Regions from separate parts of the Homo sapiens genome. Here region 1 is linked to region 2. The links come from fine-mapping of genetic effects on gene expression. Tissue or cell type: whole blood. Region 2 holds a variant in brackets; the other region holds the start of a gene. All regions are shown on one strand. Distances are from middle to middle.

Region 1 (2,758 bases), 52 kb before region 2:
GAAGCAGCAACTAGAGGGAACAAGATGTCCCTCTTAGACATCCTAAGATGATCCTATGTGGCCCCCATGTTTGGCTGGTTTTCATAACAAAGTACTCTATTCCTGAAAGAGGGTTTATATACCATGAATGACAAAACTGAGGAGAATTCTCATTAATCATTTTGAAGAATTTCTAAGTTAGCAACCAGAATCTATTATTTTTTAAAAAGATGTATTTCTTATCTGATCAAATGACCCATCTATTTTATTTGAAGATGTTGGAAAAAAAAACCTTTTTTCTCTTCAACTTGTGTCCTGTCTTTGGGGGCCTAAAAATTAACTGGCACTAGACAGATAAATAGGAGAAAAGACAAAGTTTATTTACACATGCATGCAGGAGCTTCCAGTAACAGAAAACTCAAAAGTAAAGGTTTATATACCTCAACTTAACAAAAAGGAAAGTTTTAGGGCTTCAGTAGGAGAGTTTGGAAGTTTTGATTGGGTTGTTTTGTGTTTTTGAGACAAAGTCTCAGCGCTATCCCCCAGGCTGGAGTGCAGTGGCACAATCCCGGCTCGTTGCAGCCTCCTCCCGTGCTCAAGCAATCCTCCCACCTCAGGCTCCCGAGTAGCTGGGACTGCGGCTGCACACCACCATGCCCGGGTTGTTTTTATTATTATTATTATTATTATTATTATTATTATTATTATTATTATTGAAGAGAGCTCACTATGTTGCCCAGGCTAGTCTTGAACTCCTGGGTTCAAGCAATCCTCCCACTGCCTCGGCTTCCTAAAGCGCTGGGATTACGGGCTGAGCCACAGCACCCAGCCCATTGGGTTTTTTGGTGCTAATGGTAATGGGACAGTCTGTCTTCCTGGCAGCTGAATACTCCGAGAGGCTTTTAATGGCACCATGTTTTCGGGAGGTTTTGCTTTAGTCAGATAAGGGAAGTTTCATTAAGATTTCTTTCTACATCTTCTGTAGCTCAATGTTTTCACTTAAAAACAATCTTTATGTCAACTCTGGGGGTCAAAGTACGTCCCCACGGTGGAAAAGTTCTTGTCCCAATCTCTACGGGGAGGAACCGATCTGAAATCTTGGGATATGTCTTAGCATGTCCACCGTGATTGAGGTACAAGCAGTGGTTCAGGGCACCGAGTTAGCGATTCTAGGTAAGCAAGACCATGTCAAGAAGTGGTTTGTCCAAAAGTTCGTGAGAAGGCAGAAACGAGGGAGAGTGGCAATCGTTGTTCTTTAAGAGGGCACGGTGGTGGAGGAGAAACTTGCACATCGGGGCCTGGGGTACCACGATCTGGGGCCTGGGGACGCGATTTGGGGAAACTCGGTGGCATCTGGGCTCCGCTTGATGCCAGTGCGTGTTCGTGCAAGTTACTTCCTCAAGTTCAGGGTGAGGATAATAATATCTACCATGTGGAGTTGCTGGGAAGATTCACTACCAACAGAGGCAGAGCGCACGGCTCGCAGGAAGCGCTCGCTAGGGTCTGCTCTTTCCGGGAATGGGTGGGGTGCGCACTCCTCAACAGGGCTCTCAGGACTTGCGTCACACGCCTCAGTCGGCTGGCTTATAAAACACCGGCCAGAGCCCCAAGATCGCTTTTAGTTTCTCTTCTTTCTAAAGAAGGCTCGCGGAGCCCGGCTGGAGAACCTCACCCTCGCCGAGCCTAGAACCGAGAGGGGGCCACCCCAGGCGGTCACCAGCAGATTTGCCCGCGCGTTCTCTTTCTTTCCACCCAGTTGCCCTTGCGGCCGGCTGTAAACCTGCCACTAGGACCCGGTCGGTGAGATCTAGCCTCTTGACCTGAGAGCCGAGAGTGGATCGCTGGGCTGGGCTAACGGCGACGGAGAGCGCGCCCTCGCTGACTCCGGGCGCGCCCAGCAGTAGCACCGCCCGCGCCCGCCCCTGGACACTTGTAAGTTTCGATTTCCGATTTCCGCGGAACCGAGTCCCGCGCCGCGGCAGAGCCAGCACAGCCAGCGCGCCATGGCGGACCCGGAGGTGTGCTGCTTCATCACCAAAATCCTGTGCGCCCACGGGGGCCGCATGGCCCTGGACGCGCTGCTCCAGGAGATCGCGCTGTCTGAGCCGCAGCTCTGTGAGGTGCTGCAGGTGGCCGGGCCCGACCGCTTTGTGGTGTTGGAGACCGGCGGCGAGGCCGGGATCACCCGATCGGTGGTGGCCACCACTCGAGCCCGGGTCTGCCGTCGCAAGTACTGCCAGAGACCCTGCGATAACCTGCATCTCTGCAAACTCAACTTGCTGGGCCGGTGCAACTATTCGCAGTCCGAGCGGTGAGTGCACCCGGAGGGAGGGGCGCTGTCCGCAGCCGTGGTCGGGGTGGACTGTCCAGGCGGGCAATGTTCTGGGAGGGGCACGGCTTCGCCGGGACCCCGCACCTGACAGCCTCCGCCTCCAGCCACTCCCTTCTCTGCTCCCCTCTGGGAGCCTCTGCAGGGCCCGCGCTTCTACCTTTGCAGTTCCCTTCCTTCCGGCACCTCCAGACATTTTCTCGAGAATGGCTAAAATGCTAGTGCCTGGAGGAGACCAGGCTCAACCTCCACCCCTTTCCCCGCCCGCCCGCACGAATCAGAAGAATAAAGTGCTCTGGAGCCAGCCAGGGCCTAGAGAAGCGGTAGGCAGGTTTGGGAAGGAAGGAAAGAGCCTCCCGTCTTTGGTATCTTGAGTCTTTCCCTCCCTACTACCTCCTTCCCTAGACGTGGCGGAGCCAGTAACCCAGCCGCCCTGGGCCCCCGGTCCGT
Region 2 (2,758 bases):
TAGTGGCACAATTTCGGCTCACTGCAACCTCTGCCTCCCTGGTTGAAGTGATTCTCCTGCCTCAGCCTCCTGAGTAGCTGGGACTACAGGCACATGGCACTATGCTCAGCTAATTTTTGTATTTTTAATAGAGACAGGGTTTCACCGTGAGGGCCAGGCTGGTCTCGAACTCTTGACCTCAGGTGATCCACCTGCCTCAGCCTCCCAAAGTGCTGGGATGACAGGCATGAGCCACTGCACTTGGCCCCTTCCTGTAGTTTAAATATTCAAATTAATAAAGTAAAAAGAATATTTCAGGGTTTAGGGAAGAGAGGAGTAAATCTCATGCCCTCACGGGAGCTTACATTCTGGTGGATGAGGCAATAACTATTTCAGTTCCTGACAAATGTTAGGTGGGGGAAAAAGGCAGAGTAGGAGGATGGGGAGGGGCTGTTCACATTCAGCCAATGAATGAGATCATCAGAGCTGCTTTCCATTCGTTACAATCGTTACAATCGTTCTGGCAGGATGTCTTCACAAAAGTGTGTTGGAACTGTCTTTCCTTAAAGCAACAAAACTGCATTTTTTTTTTTAAAGTTCCGGTAATTTTGATTTTTTAACAATTCAGATACTCCCAGTTAGTCTCAACTAGTGAGACCATGCTTTATGGCCCTTCCAGACAGCAGGAACTGTGGAAAGCATAGTAAACCTTGACGCCAAGCTGGATGGTTCTTTCTGTGCACATGTATTTCTAGGGGAAAAAATTGCTTTGTGGCATTTCCAGATAGCTCCTGTAGTCAGCCATTGTCGATCTCAAGAACTTCCATATGTCAGAGTTGCTTCGTGCTTTTCCATTTGCTCTTCCCCTCTCCAGGAATACTCCTTCCCGTCATTCACATGAATACAGCACCCCTCACGATTTAGCTGGAATGCCACTTTCCCATACTATAACATTCCTTGTGATTCTCCTCCAATTCTCCAACACTCGAGATTCCCTTATAGTACTTACCCACTTCTACCTTGTAATACAGTTACTTATGTAAATGTCTCTAGCACAACCTTCCCTCCTCCTCCCTTCCCCCTCCCTCCCCACCAACCTCAATTATCAGCTCCTCAGAGCTCTTGAAATATTTTGGTGTTTTTTTGTGGGGGGGGGGGGGGTTGGGGGTTAGGTTGCTGGGGTGCAGTGGCGCAATCACAGCTCACTGCAGCCTCAACCTCTCGGACTCGGGTGATCCTCCCACTGCAGTCACCCAAGTAACTAGGACTATGGGTGCACACCGCTACACCTGACTAATTTTTTTATTTTTTAATAGAGACACGGTTTCTCCAGGTTGCCCAGGCTGTCTTGGAATAGTTTGTATAATGCATGGCACATAGTGATAATAAACAGCCACATGAATAAAAAAAATAAATTAGAAAAACATGTTAGTGGGGGAGGGTGGGGGGTGGGTCATGCAGAGAACCAAATTTAATCCTGCTCTCACTAGCCCAAGGAGACACACTTGCTGTAGGATAGAATAAGGGCTGGGGTACTATCCTGAACTACAGTGGG[A/G]CATAGAAGTGAACTACGGCACACGTCACTGTTCATGGGCATCTTACAACATATTCATTCAGTCTATCCCATGTTATACAAATCCAGAATGGAAACCTGACCTTAAAATAGAGATAAACTGGGGCCAATCTTTCTCATTCTAATGAGTCACCTTCTTCTTTAAAGAGTTTTTTCCTTCAAGCATTTATTTTTTAAAATGTAATTGTTGGCCGGGCGCGGTGGCTCACGTCTGTAATCCCAGCACTGTGGGAGGCTGAGGTGGGCGGATCACGAGGTCAGGAGATCGAGACCATCCTGGCTAACACGGTGAAACCCCATCTCTACTAAAAATAACAAAAAAATTAGCCGGGCGTGGTGGCGGGCGCCTGTAGTCCCAGCTACTCGGGAGGCTGAGGCAGGAGAATGGCGTGAACCCGGGAGGCGGAGCTTGCAGTGAGCCGAGATCGCGCCACTGCACTCCAGCCTGGGCAACAGAGGGAGACTCCGTCTCAAAAAAAAAAAAAAAAAAAAAAAATGTAATTGTTTTGATCATGGAAAATTTCAAACATAAAGTACAAAGAATTGATAATAAACCCCTGAGTACCTATCATCCAACTTAAACACTGTCAATATTTTACTATCTTTGTAACGTATTTGTAGTAGTGGTAACAATATTGTTACTACCATCACCTCTAAATTTTTTTTTTCTTTGAGAAAGAGTCTCACTCTGCATGCAGGTTAGAGTGCAGTGGTGTGATCATGGCTCACTGCAGCCTCAAACACCTGGATTCATGTGATTCTCCTGCCTTAGCCTCCTGAGTAGCTGCAACTACAGCCGTGCACCACCACACCTGGATAATTTAAAAAAAATGTTTCTAGAGATGGGGAGGGGGATCCCACTGTGTTGCTCAGGCAGGTCTTAAACTCCAGAGCTCAAGCAATCCTCCTGCTTCGGCCTCCCAAAGTGCTGGGATTATAGGGATGAGCCACCACACCTGGCCTAACTTTTTTTCTTTTGCTGGAATATTTTAATGTAAATCCAATACATGTTATCATTTCCCTGTATATATATTAGGTGTCTTCCTAACAGGTAAGAGGTTTTAAAAAACATAATACAATATCATTAACCTATGTAACAAAGTTAATGATAATTCCTTAATATCATCTAATACCCAGTTCACGTTTTATGTTTTCCCATTGTCTTAAACAATGACTATTTAGAGTTGAGGTATTGCAAATCAGTAT

What was found. PIP is the estimated chance that this variant, and not a neighbour inherited with it, causes the effect.
Region 1: it holds the start of ZC3HAV1, and the variant in region 2 is fine-mapped to the expression of ZC3HAV1 in whole blood (INTERVAL, PIP above 0.99).

What each region holds. Positions count from the first base shown.
Region 1 is chr7:139,108,556-139,111,313 of GRCh38, reverse strand. It overlaps ZC3HAV1 (zinc finger CCCH-type containing, antiviral 1), which reads left to right and starts at 1,594. Exons shown (of 13, transcript NM_020119.4): 1 at 1,594-2,290. The coding sequence starts at 1,983. RefSeq lists enhancers at 1,486-1,645, 1,438-1,941, 1,886-1,985, 2,566-2,695.
Region 2 is chr7:139,056,823-139,059,580 of GRCh38, reverse strand. All of the region lies in intron 9 of ZC3HAV1 (zinc finger CCCH-type containing, antiviral 1), which reads left to right. Among named protein-coding and RNA genes, the nearest start is that of MIR10399, 14 kb to the right of the region's middle. The variant A/G (reference allele first, on the strand shown) is at 1,535.